Regions from separate parts of the Homo sapiens genome. Here region 2 is linked to region 1. Evidence: fine-mapped expression QTL. Tissue or cell type: subcutaneous fat. Region 1 holds a variant in brackets; the other region holds the start of a gene. All regions are shown on one strand. Distances are from middle to middle.

Region 1 (8,000 bases):
ACCTTGATCTTGGATTTCAAGTCTGCAGAGCTGTGAGAAAACAAGTATCTGTTGTTAAAGCCATGCAGTCTGCAGTAGTCTGTTATGGCAGCCTGTACTGACCAATACATGGCCCCTCCTGACCTCACCTGCCCTTCCCAAGACTCTTTTCCTCTGGCAACGTGTTCCTCTGAACACACACTTACACACTGGTCTCATTGCTGTTTCCTGAAGCTGCTAAGCTCATTCCTGCCTTACAGCATTTGTGATTGCTGTTCCCTCTGCCTGGAATGTTCTTCTGTCTTGTTTTTGCTGAGCTCACTTCCTCACCACCTTCAGGTTTCTACCTGGTGTCACCTAAGAAGGCATCTCAATTCATCCTAAGTAAGACTTTCCTTTCTGGATCACCTTGCACCCCCAATCTTGTTTTATTTTTCTCCACAACACTGATGTAATAATATGTACTCATTTGTTTATTGTCTCTCTCTCTGTGACCAGAATAAAACCTCCTCCCAGAATAAAAGCTCCAAGATGATCAGTCTCAGATCTCTCCTTGAGAAGATCAGAGACTGATCATCTTGCTCCCTGCTGTATCTCAGCACCCAAACGATGCCTGGCACATAATAGGATTGCAACATATATATGTTGAATGACTAAGTGAATGAATTAGTATGTATCATGCTTGCTTTGTAGACATATGAGTATATGTATGTATGTATACATATATGTAACATGTGTATGTATTTACACACATATATTCATCTATATATTTGTATCTATATCAACACCTGCACCTGCCTATAAAGCAGGACATGTTCATTTGTAAAGAGGATACAGACCAAGATTTTATTTCTGATTCTATATGGATGGAGGAATTCTAGTGGCAAAATGATGTTGTGTTTGAAAACCAAAAGCCCAAGGTCACACAGCTTCCGGTCCATCAGAGGCCAATTTCCTTATCACACTAGATTGGCTCTTGAAAATCTCACTATAAATTATGAGGAAGAAAGAAATTCAAACCAAAGAATAGTAGAGCTAAAGGGTTATTTGAGATTCTCTAGTTCAGTCAACAAAAAGTGTGCTAATCCTCTCCCATCTCACACCCTTGGCAGACATCACTAATGGATTATGGCACTTTCCACCATTGAACTTCTGAGTCGTCTTTAGCATAATGCCTCAGGCTGACTTAGCTGCTCAAATGAAGTGATTTGTCATCCCAAATCTAACCCACCCCAATCAGTTTTTGGATTGACAGTCTGAGGCCCAGAGAGGAGCATTCATTTGTCCCAAATTGCACAGCATGCCAGAACCAAGACCTGGGTCACCCAAAGCTGACCTGGCTTGTGTTCCTATGGTGCAACATTAAGCTGGAAGGGAACTTAGAGGTCATGTTCAATATAAAATCACATAGAAGGTTATTATTTCTAAATGATCTTTCATTACTTCTGATTACTTCTAAAAATTTTAATCACTTGCTGCCAAAAGTTAACTTACCAGTAAAATGAGCTACAGGAATCAGACCAATTCTGGCTACCAGCAAGATGCTAAATAGAACCAATTGTAGTCAAGAGACCAAGAAGAAATTCCTGCCTTTTGAGATCAAGGAAAGCAAAAGACAGTTCAGCAAAAATAGAGAGTGAGAACCTTGAATGGTGAAAAGTGAGGACGGATCAACACGTTTTTCAAACCCGTGCAGGCTGCAGAAGACACTATTGCCTTCCTCCCAAGAGCCATCCTCCACTTTTATCTCTGCTAACAGAAACCTAGTCATATTCTGATCTCCACTCCTCAGGCAAGGTAACTATTCCTAGCTCAAGACTAAATCCCAGTTGTCCAAGCCGAACATGCAATCTCATTCCCCCTGACAACGATGAATACAAAACTGCATGTGATCTGATTTTGACCACAGTCCTGCTAAAGGACTCTGGGAAAAACTGCTCACTCTTAAAATGAGAAACACAAAAATGCCAGTCTCTTTTTGCCTTTGAACATTAGTACATTTGAGTGTGATGACTGGGCTATGGCAACCATCCTGGCACCATGAGGAGAACAACTTGAGGCAGGACTGACAGGCCCAGGACCCCAGAAAGGAAGGACAGTAGAAGAAACCTGGATGCTTGGAAATGTGGAGAACCCCAGGAGACACCCTGCCTTGGGTCATAGATCTTTCTTCTTCTTTAAACCATTTGGCATTGGGGTTTCTCTTACCTGCTACCTAAAGCATACCAACTGGTACATGAGATACCTCCCATTGCTTCCTAGAGACTGAAACAGGCTTAGTCAAAGCTCCAGGCCTTTCCCAACTCCCAGACATTGCACCCTCACTTTCCCAGTTGTCTAAGGACAGAACAGACCCTTATATCTGAGGGCACCTGGGGAAGCTCCACCATGACCCACATGTATTCCAGGTGCCTGAAATACCACCCTTAGTGAGGTATTGTTCTGTTTAGATATGCAAATCGTCCTGGGGGTAGATTAAGTCCCCTAAGTGAGAAAGAACTAATTGCATCTCTTTCTTCTTCCAAGAAACTTTGGCAGACTGTTATTACAGGAGAAACAGATGCCGAGATGGGAGTTAATGCACAGGGGTTTCATGAAGGCAAATGCCTGTGAGAGAAAATGGGTGGAAGGGAGGGTAGAGAGAGCAGTCAGGCCATGTGATGCAAGACCCTGAGTGGAGGACAGAGGGAAGGAAGATTGGGTAGAAGCATTCTAGGCAGTTGTGCCAACTTGATAGGCTTGGCAGTGCCTTCCTTGAGCCAAGGTCTAGTAACAGCAGAGTTCCGTGTCTGCCAGTGATAGCTCCCCTTCAATTCCTGCCAGGCAGTCCTGGGTAGGAGGAGCCTCTGGGAGGTGTGGCCTCTGCACAGACACAGCTGGAAAAAATGGGCTCCTGGGACAGAGGGGAAGGAGACTTGGGGTGGGAGATACCTCCGCAGGGGGTCATGTCTGTGTGATGGTCACGCTCTGCTCCATCCAGGCACTCACTCAGTAAACCTCTTTCAGTGAAGCCAGCTTAGACCAGCAATTCTTCACATGGTGGTCATGTCAATGGCTGTCGTTGCTGACGAATGGAAACTAGAGAATGGGCTAGGTCACTTGAGAACATTAATGTGTCAGGCCAGGTTGGCACAGGAGAAAGCTGAGCTCATGAGGCAGAGGCTCCAGGAGCCACATGTGCCTGGGGATTAGTGCTACTCTGGACTTTACAGGCCATGCCGTTTGGGGCAGTTTGAGGCCATTTTCTCTGGTTCTCACTGGCCAGGAAGAACCCCACCCAATCTCTGAGTTACTCATTGTAAGCCTGGTTGCTGCATCAGAGATTCAAAACACTGGGCCTTAGGTGAGAGTGCAGTTGCCTTCTCACATATTAGTGCAGGTGCAGGTCTGGGACGGGGACCCAGGCTCTTGCCCTCTTGTTGCTCTGCCTTCCCCAGAGTGCTGCGAAAGAATACCGTCCACAGAAAATTATTGATGAGATGATGCCTTGGCAGCCCATGTATGTGCCAGGCACTGTTCTCAATACTTTATAAGTATCAAGCCTTTAACCCTCAAAATCTCTCAGAGTAGATAATATCCTAATTTTACAGAAATTGAAGCCAAAGAAGTCGAGTTGCCAGCTCCACAATCTATGCTGGCGACAACCACGCCTGCTAGCCAGAAGGAAGGGGGGCGGGGGTGTGCAGA[C/G]AAATGGAACCCTCCTTCCCTTTAAGGACTGAGACAGATACCATGAGTCAGGTGGCCATGCTTGGTTTCCAGGGTGGCTGAGAGATGTAGTCTTTAGCTGGGCAGGCATGTGCAAAGTGCCCAGCTAAATTACTACTCTGCCTGGAATGGCTCTTCCAATCATTTACACCATCATTCATGATTTACCAGGCCATGATTTAGGCTAACATTATCCAAGATTCAGTTCACCTGCACTGGGAAGATACTCCCAACTCCACCCTTGGCTGGGTTAAATGCCCCACTTAGGGCTTCCATTAGCCCCTGGGATGCCTTCTATGTCACTCTTATTATATGTTATTAGAAGATCCTCTCTGGTCCCAATAGGCCTACAGACATGGTTTGTTTGGCCCACACAGTGTTTAAAGAAAAAAAAAATAGAAATAAAAACCACACGCGCACACACACACACACACACACACACACACACAAGCAATTCCAAACATATGGCTTCCCCTTAAAAATCATAAGGCACAATACAGGACAGTCAACTGAGACTGAATAGCTCCCCAGTCCCTGTACAGAGGACACATGCACTTCGTTCTCACAGTCCCCACCGCTCCCTAATGTCCCACACCCTCCCTAATTCATTCATTCATGTTGCCTGCCTGACCCTGGTAGGTAGTAGCCATTGCAACTCCATTGGACCATGGGTTTTTGGGGGGCAAAGTGTGCTTCAGCTGGATGTGCCTTGCACTTGGCACACAGCAGGTGCTCAGAAATGTTTATGGAGTGTGTGAATAGGTTTGCTGAAACTTTCAGGATTAAATTGCATTGCAGCACAGACATACATTCCACCCACACCCTTCCCAACCGTCACCCCAAAGAAATCTATATTTAATTGGGTTTGCAAAATCAGAGCCTCCAAGCAACTTCACACTAGAGATCCTTTCTAAACGGCAGAAATGCGACAGCTTCGCCCTGTGTGCTTGAGCCTATTCATAGCTCGGGTGTGTTTCCTGGGCAGCTGCATTGTTCTTAGTGGGAGAGCAGCAGAGGCAACCTTCTAAGTCCGACTCCCCCTCTGCCTCTCCCAACCCTCCCTCATGCCCTTCCACACTTCTCTTTCTCTGTCCAGCTTGCCTGCCCGCTGTCTATTCTGTTGGATGGTTATTTATTTATCGTCAGCACTAATCAGAGGGTGGGGAGGGGAAATAGGAGCTCTTGCCGATGCGAAAGTGCTTCGCCAGGGTCCCCAGGGAGAATCCTGTGCGGTGTGCAGCGCCAGAGGTCACTGTCACCTTGGCCTTGAGGTGGCCTGTTTACCAAAGTGAAATGAAGATATCAGTCAGATGTCAGGTAAATGCTAATGGCCAGCTCCTGGGCAGAGAGCTGGCACAGGATTGGCCGGGCTGGGTGAACCCTTCCTTTCCAATTCTGCAGCACAAAGGCCCCAGTGACTTAGCAACTCCGATAAGAGGTCAATGGGCAAATGTCAGTCCTTGATTGAATGCACCTCTTGGCCTGGTTTCAGGAGCCCCAGGGCTGCCTCTCTGCATTTCCCTCGGCTCTCCCCACTCCTATGCAACTGGAGGAAGGTGAAGCATTTGTTGGAAAGCCCTCCCATCCACCCTTTCCCTATCTCTGGCAGGAAAGAAAGCCTATCCCTTCATGTCCCAAGGTCCGAAAGCACAATGAAAACCGGCATCATTATCCTTCAGCCGTGAATGGGAAAAGCAGGATGTTGACTATGGGTCGTCACCTAGGAGGACGGATGAGACTGGATTCAGTCGCAGAAAAGGACAGGAAACAGTCGCTGCCTTGTTTATCACTGTGTGATAGATAGCATCCCGGGGCCACCTCTCCACGCAGGGCCTCATTAGGAAGTCAGCACCTGAAACAGGAACCTCCGCATCACATGGTCCAAGATGAAACAGGGCCTGTTAGCTCGGTCTCCCAGGACTGTGGATCCTTTTTGCATTCCTTCTATTGTTTTTCCAATGTGGGGGCTTGGCACTGGGCACAGTGAGGGTCTCACACCTCTGCTGGTTCTCACCAACAGGAAGCATCTCCCACATTGACATCTTCAAGCAGCCCCTCCCCAAGCCCCTCGAAGTCACTTAGTCTTCATTCTCATCTAGTCTTTTCTGCAAACTCTCCTGCTCCTCAGTCAACGCTCTTTTATTCTTCTTTAGACTTTTTCTCTGCATCCTCCTGCCCCTGCCAGCATAACAATTGAAAGAACTGTCAAATCTTCTCAAATAAATTTTTCTGCATTTTTTTGCTTCTTCTCATATTTAACCTTGTTGATATTTTAATTTTTTTCAGCTTGTAAAAGATTAGAAATCAGAAAGAATTTAAGAAGTTTGTATAGTATACAACACCACGTGCAATAAAATGGGCACAACTTGTCTCCCTTTTATACTATGTAGCTACTGATCACTTTGGACTGCTACGAAATACATAGGACATCAATATGTAACATATTAGCTGTATGTTGATTTCTATAGACAGCGAGGCACCTGACCTTTGGTCTGGAATGCATCTTAAAAATCGGACGTGGATTGTATTACTTTGTCTTGCTGCACAGTTGTTCACCACAAACTGTCACAGGTGCCCCTCACAGCCTTTTTGGTACTCCAGTGGGGGCCTGCTCTGATTAGACGCTGTGCTCAAGGCCATTCTCACTGACTTGCTATTGCAGGGCTGCGAATGCTCGAGAAATCAGACTCTTACACACAGGTGAGTTTCTGGGATCTGGTTAGTAAACCATACCTTCAAGTAAACCACCATAGCCTCCACCATATTCAGAATAAGCAAAACCCTAGAAATGTTGACTTGAAGAAGGATGTCCTGTCCCTTTGGTGACAAGTTGCCTTGTCACAGGAAGATAAAAATGGCTTCATTTGCCCATTTGCCACAGTAGCTCTGATGATCAACCCTGCTTCCTGTCTTGTGCTCCCTTCAATGGATTCTCCATGCACAAAGCAGAGTGATCCTCTTAAAATACAAATCAGGTCAGCTGTCTCTCCCCTGCTTCCAAAAATTCTGCAAAATATTTAGCATCTCAGTCAAACTCCTTCCTACGATAGTGCCTATCACTCTGACTTCATCTCATGGCATCTTCTCCCCCTCGCTCATCACGCTGGAACCACTTTGGCTTCCTCACTGTTCCAAAGACATGCCAAGCTGGCTTTCTGCTCAGTGGGGTTGTAGTTGCTGTTCTCTCTGTGTGGGATGCTCTTCCCTCAGATTTCTGCATGGCTGGCTCTTTCTCATCAGGTCTCACCTCAAATGTCACCTCCTCCGAGAAGCCCTCTGATCTCTCACATCACTCAGTCTCATTTTCATCACATCCCTTATCATTACCCAATATCTTTCTGTTCATTTCATCATGTACTTCCCCTACCACCCGCCGCTGTGAGAAGATAAGCTCCGTGAGAGCAGCAGCATGGTCTGGGGTCCCATAAACGGGCTCCTCCAAGTCCGGATCCATCTCCAGGCGGCTTCCAGTCCAGAGTTCTAGGCACAGCACCAGCCAGCTTCTTGAACGAGTGTTGGCATTTCTTTCTCAGTGGCTTTGAAATCAGACGTCAGCCCCCAACCTCGTGACTCAGCCGGCAGCATGTGAGAAGGCTGGCTTGGGGACACAAAGTCCTTCGATCTTTAGAGAGATAGCAGCCCTCCTGGGAACGGGGCCACAGATGAAGGCTGAGCATGAAGCCTGGGCACTGGCCTGCCACTGGAAGCTGACCCTCTGCTGGACCATGCCAACTCTTGACATTTCCCAAACTAGGCAATGGCCCAGGCTTTTGAAAGCCAGTATCGCCTAGCTATGGAATCGCCATGCAGATAGTGCTCAGGGAATGAAATTAAATTTCCCTTTTCAGAACAAAGACAAACACACTCCTCTCACCCATCCTACGAGAGCTGGGCCGGGAGCGCCTGCCTCCGTGCCAGGATTCAAAGCCCACGGGCTCTCCTGCTTGCTTCAGCAGTTCCTGGCAAGTGCAACGGAGTTCTCCCGCTTTAAAATCTAATTGCCTGCCCACGCCCGTGAATCCCATCTCCAAAGGCAAGAAAAAAAAAAATTTTAAAAAAAAGTTGGTGGGGGTGGGAGGGGCCGGGGTTCTCACACATTCAGCCCAGATGAGCCCATTTAAGCTTTTGACATTATGCCTTTTGGGGAGGCCGATTCAAAATAAAACCAGCCCGAGAAGCTCCTGTTTTAAACAGAAAGATCCATAAATGCAGCTTCTGTCAGTAATGAGAAAAATGGAAATCACAAGCAAAACCAGAAAACTCATTCCCCCAGAATCTTAATGATCTCCAGAATAATTGTGCTGGTCTCTCAAATC
Region 2 (8,000 bases), 94 kb after region 1:
TCCCTTGCAGAGAACAAGGGTTCCTCTTCCCCCCCTACTCCAGCTAACACTTGGCATTAGCTGACTTTCTAATTTTTGCTGACCTGATGAGTGTACAGAGTAAAGTTTCATGTTGAACTTTTAAAACAAAGGGGGAAAATACAGAGGGAAAAGAATAGGAAGGAAAGTGGTTAGGAGGGAAGGAAATGGCAGCTGGCTAAGTGGGAAGAATTGGGAAGTCAAGTTTTCTGGACTGCACAGTACCCTACAGAATCCTAGGGGCCATCAGAGCAGCTGCAGGTCACCTTGTGGAAAAGTGCAAAATACAGTTTAGACATTTGGAATTTGGCTTCCTGGCAGCCTGGCTGGAAGGTGTTGGTTCCACAGGGCCAAGGCTGGCTGTGCCTGCCTCCCTCTGGGTCCTGGAAGCTGAGGGAGGTGGACCAGCCTCCAGCTCCCAGGTTCTTATGCTCCTCCTATTTATCTCTCAGTCCTTTCCTGGCAGCCAGAGAGTCCATCTTTAGCGGGGACCTGTACAGTATTGTTTTAATCTTCAGCTCTCTCTGCTTCCTCTCTGTTCCCTTCCTCCCTTCCTCTTCTCCTTGTCTACCACACAGAACAGATGTGGAAAAAGCCAGGCCTTTAGGAACATCTGCTGAGACACCAGCTGCCTTCCTCCTGGGCTAAGGAAACTGTGACCCCTCTGATTATTGGGTTTCATCCAAGGACCTCAGTTCTCTGGCCAGAATATTTGCATCGAAGTCAGCAAGGTCTTCTAGCTATTTAAGAGAATTTGCTAAATCCCTGAAGATCTGTACATATAGAAGGAAGGGAGAGATGCTATTTTTTAAACATTGGCTGCAGTTGGAGCTGGCTGGCCCAGAAGTGCAGAATTCCCAATGCTTCCCAAGGAGCATGCATCACTCTCGGAAATACCTGGACACATAGGAGAGGTATAGGAAAAATGAGTTGAGTTGTTCTGATTAAGAAAGGAACTGCAATTTGGAACTTGATCAGCAGCTGCATGCTGACTGCTAGAGGAAGAAGGGTTTGTTTCTGTTTTTGTTTCTTTGTTTTTTTGGGAGGGGACAAAGTGATTTCTGAAAGAGAATGAGAGGGCCTAGAAGTAAAAATGAGGCAGAGGGAATTGGAGGAGGAAATGGCCAGTGATAAATTCCTCCTAGCAGGAGTTCCCCGCCCAGATGGGGACTTCAGTGTAGAATCATTTACTTTGGGGATGACACCTCTTGTTAACTGCAGACCTGCAGGAAACATCTGCTAAACTTGACAGCTGTGAGCTGCTGGTGGTCATTGAAAGACCAGCATTAAGTTGACAGGCAGAAAGAAAACACAGTCCCGGGGGAAGAAAGGAATGAGATGGGAGTGCTCAGTGTGAACAGGAAATCAGAGCCAGGGATGACCAGTAAAATATAAGCCCTGGGGGAATCTAGAAACATCTTGGAAAGGGCCCAAGGCTTTTCCATAACATGTGGACTGGGAGGCTCTCGGGAAGGACCCCAGACTGGTGAACTTGGGAATATGCAAGCTGAAGGCATCTGGGATACACGAGTGGGTGCACACACGCACATGCGCACACACGCACATGCACACTCACACGCACACATGCACACACTGCAGATCCCCTAGAGTAGTGGTCCTCAACCTTGGCTGCACATTTGAATTGCCTGGGGCTTTAAAAAATGCCAGAGCCTACCCTCACCCCAATGCCACCAAACCAATGACATCAGAATCTGTGGGAATCAGACCCACACGTCAGGTTTTCAAAGCTCCCAGGGCTGAGCAGCATTGTTCTACAGCCTGACAGCTCCAGCTGCCTGGAGAGCAGATGCCATTTACAGTCTCCTGCAACCAAAGACTCGCCTGAACCATCGTGCCCTTCCATCACACACCATACCCAGGCCTTCTCCCTTCCTTTCTCACCACCTCCCCTACCCGCTTCCCAACAGATCTCCTCCCACAGTCACAAGATAAGACACAGGCGCCCAGTGGAATTTAAGCCTGAGAGAAACCACAAATAATTTTGTTTAATATAAGTATGAGTTGTGTAAAATTAGTAGATGTCATGCAACATACTCATACTAAAAGTTATTTGTGATTTCTCTAAAATTCAAATTTAACCAGGCATCCTGTGTTTTTAGTTGCTAAATCTGACAATCCTAGATAGAGACAACTTAAAAACAAATAGAGAGTGTCCTTCCTCGACAAGGGACAGAGATCTGGTACCACCACTAGCACTAGACCCAGAGTCAAAGCCCAGGGCTCCTGGGCTGAGGCCCCTGGGAGAATCAGCAAAGCTTTTCGCCTTCCCCACACGTGCTGTGGGCGCGCAGTACTGCAAGTTATCACCACCAGAGGGCGCACTCTGAGTAGGCGGGAGGAGCCCGCAGGGACAAGACCCCAATCCACAGATGCTTAGAGAGACAGTGAGGGCGCAATCCCCAAAGGAGCATTAGTGTTCAACTGGTGGGGTCCAGGGACATTTCTTCCTCTTCTAAACTAAATGATCCCGAAGACACCTGAGATTCAATGAGAGAGAAGGGTGAGCCCGGGGTAGAATGGTAAGACTCAAAACCTGGCAGGTTTCTTTTACAGTGATTTATTGCTTTGATTTTTAAAAATTGCACAAATAAAATAGACCATTCAGAATTAAACGTGGAAGTCCTCCTTTTAATGTCCCCATTCACCTGCCTCGCATGTGTGTCATGGATCTTCCTAGATCTACTTCTACGCACGTGAGTGCGTGTGTGTGTGTGTGAGTGTGTCTGTGTGAGTGTGTGTGTATGTGTGTGTAATATGGGTTTGTTGGTTAAATTCTTTACACAAATCCCATCAGAATATGTATGTAGATAATTTCTAGAAATTTCTTTTTTCATCTAATAGATTTTGAGGAGGATCACTCTGTGACATAGGCAATATTAATTTCATTTACTCTTCACAATGACCCTATGAGGTAGGGGCTAGTGTTATCGTCCGTTATACAGATGGAGAAACTGTGACACAGAAAGGCTAAGTGAGTTGCACAAGATCACACAGCAAGTAAGTGGCAAAGCTGGGATTGAAACCTAGGCTATCTGGCTTTGGAGCACGAATGCTTAATCACTCTTCTGCAATACTTGGCTTTAACCACTGCATCACAGTCTAGCCTAGAGATGGACCATAGTATATTTATAACCACTGCCCTTTTGATCCATATGCAGGCTGTGTCCAGGGTTCCACTAGTATAAAAAAGGATGCAGAGAAGAGCTTTGTGCAGCAGCCAGAGGGGTTCTTGCAGGGTAGTGGCCCAGCTGTGGAGTATGCACAGGTTACATTCCAATAAATACTGTTAGATTTTATTCCCAAGAGGTTGAAACTTTCCCATTCCCAGCAGTTGTGTTAGTGTGCCCATCCCCCTTGGTGCCATCGAGGGCATGCAGGCAGAAGGAACAGCCTGTGGAGAGGGGCGTGGATATGGTTTGGGGAATGGCAAGAAGTCCAGTGAGGCTGAAGGTTGGGTTGTAGTTGCTGGTTGCGAATGTAATCTATTTTATGCTCTGCAAATTTGATACACGATACCACGATATTTCATTGTAGTTTTTGTTTGCATTTCCCCAATTACCAGGAAGCAATATCATCTTTTTGTGTGTTTATGAGCCATTTGTGTTTTTTCTTCTGTAAACTTTATGTTCATATTTTTACACTTTCCCAATGGGATGTTTATCTTCTTGGTTTGTAGGTGCTCTAGTATTATGGGATGTTAGTCTTTTGTCAGTTACATTTGCACGAATATTATCTCATGGCGTGTTGCTCTTACAAACTCAAGTTTTTAGATAGTAACCTGGATTGTCAAATGCGACAAGACGGTTTCTCAGTCACAGCTGTGGAATGTGTAACGAGACAACCTCTCTGAAGGGCAGCTTGGTAATAGATACCAAATGTGCTTTAAATCGTGTACACTTGCTGATGCTGGTATTCTATATCCATCCTAAGGAAAGATCAGGGATAAAGACAGCAAGTTAGCTCTGAAGATGGTCATTCCAGTTTTGTTAATGATGTAACAATTTGAGAACCTTTACATGTCCAGTAATAGCGCATTGGAAAAATCAATTACATCTTAATCACTGGCAGGAATATAATGTTACCATGAAAAAAGATGCAATAAAACTGTGTTTTTGACTGTACTAGTAAATGAAAAAATTGATAGCATGAAAGATTTTGTCCAGTATTATTCCATTTTTGTAAAAATGTTTAAAGTTCAGGCTGATAAGATATACCCCAAAATGTTGATAATGATTTTTCTCTGCATGGAGCTATTATGGGGTAATCTTTACTGTCTTATTTTTGCTACTCTAAATTTTTTTTAAATTTCTACAAATAATATTAATTACTTTTATAATAAATATATATTTTTAAAATTATACATACATATATATATACACACACGTATGCATATATTTATACCTAATTTTTTCTTTTGACTATTGGTGGTAGACAGCTCCCAGATGATCCACAGGCCCTCAGTGAAACTTACCTCCTGTTATTCATGCTTTTGTGTCCTCTTTTCTCAAACTGAATCAGAGCTGGTCAGTGTTACCAGTAGAATACTGCAGAAGTGATGGTGTGTCACATCCAAGGCTAAGTCATAAGGGCATTGTGACTTCAACCTTTGCTCTTGGATCACTTGCCCTGGGGAAGCAGCTACCATGTTGTGAGGCTGCTCAAGTAGCCTTGTGGAGAGGTCCACCTGGAGAGAAAACAAGGCCTTTGCCGCAGCCGGCACCAACTTGCCAACCATCTGAGTCAGCCACCTTGGAAGTGGATCCTCCAGCCTCATTCCAGCCTTCAGATGACCACTGTCCCAGCTCATATCTAGACTGCAACCTCATGAGAGACCTGGAGCCAGAACACCCAGCTAAGCTGTTCCTGAATTCCCGACTCACAGAGACTGTGAAAGATAATATATGTTTGTGTCTGTTTTAAGTCACTAAGTTTTGGCTGTTGCCTAACAGTAGATAGCTGATATAAAGCTTAGTACCAGAAGTGGGGTGCTGATGGAACATAAACCTACCAATGTGGGAGCGTCTTTGGAACTGAGCAGAGGGCAGAAGCTGAAAGGACTTTGAAGAAAGTGTCAGAGAAAGCCTAAAGGGCACTGGAGAAGCCAGTAGTGGGAGGAGAATGTTGGTGAGGGTTTATAGGAAAGTGAGAACAATGCATTAGAGACTGGAAGAAAGGTGATTCTTGTTATGGAGAGGCAGAAATTAAGCAACACTGCAACAAGATGGAAAGCTCATAAATTGAATGATCTAGCTAAGGAGACTTTTAGGCAAGCCCAGATATTGGGCTCTTCCACTAAGAGTATCTTGCTACAAATATAAAAGAACCAGAAAATGCAGCCCTGCCCTTGGCCTTGGCCTCTGGGCGCCATCTCACTCAGTAGCATGAACTGTGCCCACTGGCCTCCTTGCAAGTGACTGATGCAGAAGGTGGAGAGTTGTCATGCTTGCTGGTTCCCAGGATGGTTCTCAGAAAGCTTGGAACTGAGGTGGAATCATGTTCGTGTTCCTCCCAGAGTATAGAGCAGTTAGACTCTCGGTACATTTCTGGAGAGAGATGGGGGTGAAGAGTGCTCAAGGGAAGAATTGAATCAATGCTCCCAGCACTCCACCCTGCCCATGGGAAGTCAGGTTGCACAGAGGCTAACCTGAAAACTCAGTCACAATGCTCCCTGGATCTGATCATATTTAGGGTATACTTTGGGGTGCCTGGGCCCCTCAGCAGGTGGGTCTGGACAGAGGCTGCACACTGCAGGTTCCTCCCATGTTTTTCTTCCTAAGGATGGAACCACTCACATGCATGATACTCACACACATGACACTCACACGCATGCCGTCTCTCCTTGGGATACCTGACGGTCTGAGCTTTAAAGTAATTTACCTTTATTTACCTGTAATGAACATTCGTCCCGCTTTCTTCTTGTCCAGTGCTTCAAACATCTTTTCTTTGGGGAGCTCCTGCCTCCTCAGTCCCTGACTGTCTAGAGGAGCCAGAAACTCTATTTCTCAGACAGGAGGGTGCAGGCATGTGACCAAACTCACCATACAGATGTACCTGCACCAGACTCAGATTCAGAGCCAGGGGCTCCAGGACGAAGCAAGGTCCCATGGGCTCCACCCTGGCGGGGAGGCGACATTGGAAGCCCCTTTGCAGTTGCCCTACTCAGGGCAGGCTGCCGTGTTGTTTCCTGGAGCTGCTCTGCAGTAGGTGGCACGTTTGGGCCATATTCTAGAGCCCAGTTCCCAGGTCATTCAAAAGATGCTGGGGCCCCCAAGTAGCCAGTGATAAATCCCATTTCTGCTTAAACTCAATACAAGTGGTTTCTGTTGTTTGCAACCAAGCCTGCCTGAGGCCTTCTACTGGCGCTGCACCTTTGCAAGGGAGACATTTGGTGTGATATATAACAGCAACTTTGGGACGAATTCCACTCTACCAGACACAGCTGGGAGCAGAACAATCCCAGATACCTCTTCGGGTAAATGGACCCCTAACTAGGGAAATGCATTTTTTAATGTGCTTTTTAAATCACTTGGAATGCCCTGACCTCCCCACCTCCTCCTCTGTCCCACTCGGGTCCACCCTCCACATCACGGCCAGTGTGATCTTTCTCCACAATGATCTGGTGGTGCTACTCCCCATGTGACACCTGCGCTGGGTGTCTCTGTCCCCACCCCATCTTCCTCCTCCCTGCTGTGCCCACCCAGCCATGCCATGGGGACAATCACTCTTGCTCTCTGGCTTCAAGTGGGGTTTGGCCAATGGGAGCATGGGCAGGCCCTCACAGGGCAGGAAGAATGGACTTGGACATCTGTTACCCCCGGTCCTTCCCTGCCAGGTTACCACAGGTAGGCTGTGTCCCTTTACTGCAGACTCATATGTGCTTCTCCACACAGCCACCCTCTCTGGGTTCTGATAGCCACTCCCTGGCCTCCTCTCTTCGGGTCTAGGGGTAGGCACAGCTCCCCAAAGAGACAGTAGCACCTCACAGCTGTGTCAGTCCCAGGCATGCTCCATGCTCTGCTGGCTTCCCTAACCCCGTCCACCCCTTTGCAGACAGCGTCTTTATCAACCCACACTTCAGTTACCCATCTTAGTGTGTCATCTGTGTCCTGTTAGGGCCCTGGCTGAGACAACAGCCTTCACTCAATGTTTAGGTTTTGTGCAAGACGCAATTCCTTCAGGACTAAGCTGAGATTTCAAGACCCTATGAGATCTGGCCCCTGCCAGCCTTTCCTGCTCATCTGTCCTTCCCTGACTATGCCAGGCTTTCTCCCTCCCTGCCTTTGCCACTCCACCAAGGCCCTCACCCAGGAGCACCCTCACTCTTCTGGCCTGCCGCTGCAGAGATGTCTGCTCTAGGCAGCTGTGCAGGCCAACTAATGCCCACCACAAAATGTCCATGTCCCAATCCCTGGAACTCAGGAATGCTACCTTCTATGACAAAAGGAACTTTGCAGGTGTGGGTAAGGATGTGGAGATGGCAAGAGTGTCCTAGATTATCCAGATGGGCCTTAAATGTCATCACAAGTGTCCATAATGAGGGAGGCTGACGGGCATTTGAGTGCAGCAGGGAAGGCCGTGTGATGTTGGGTGCAGAGGTTGCAGGGGTGCATTTTGAAGAAGGAGAAGGGGGCTGCAGGCAAGGATGCAGGCAGCCTCCCAAAGCTGAACAGGGCCAGGAAGCGATTCTCCCCTGGAGCCTCCGGAAAAGACCAGCTCAGATGACACCTATAGCCAGGGAAACTGATTTCACACTTAACGACCTTCAGTGTCATAAGAGAATACATTTATGTTGTTTTAAGCCACTAAGGTAGTGGTAATCTGTTACAACAGCCATGAGAAACTAATCAGATGCCTTTCCCAATCCCAGACTGGGCAGGCGGACCCCTCTGAGTTTCTGCCACCCGTACTCACTCTGAGTGGCACCTGTCAATCCGTATCAGACCTGCAGTTTACCTGTTGAT

Direction of the effects. Alleles are on the strand shown, and positions count from the first base shown. SD is a standard deviation of normalised expression in the study named.
For the expression in subcutaneous fat of the gene that starts at base 4,559 in region 2, allele G in region 1 goes with a lower level than allele C (small effect, 0.27 SD a copy in GTEx).

The links. PIP is the estimated chance that this variant, and not a neighbour inherited with it, causes the effect.
Region 2: it holds the start of LINC02995, and the variant in region 1 is fine-mapped to the expression of LINC02995 in subcutaneous fat (GTEx, PIP above 0.99).

The regions. Positions count from the first base shown.
Region 1 is chr5:173,670,579-173,678,578 of GRCh38, reverse strand. No RefSeq gene overlaps it. Among named protein-coding and RNA genes, the nearest start is that of LINC01942, 15 kb to the left of the region's middle. RefSeq lists an enhancer at 7,980-8,000. The variant C/G (reference allele first, on the strand shown) is at 3,667.
Region 2 is chr5:173,576,193-173,584,192 of GRCh38, reverse strand. It overlaps LINC02995 (long intergenic non-protein coding RNA 2995), which reads right to left and starts at 4,559. Exons shown (of 4, transcript NR_027108.2): 1 at 4,511-4,559; 2 at 3,818-3,964; 3 at 285-915; 4 at 1-83.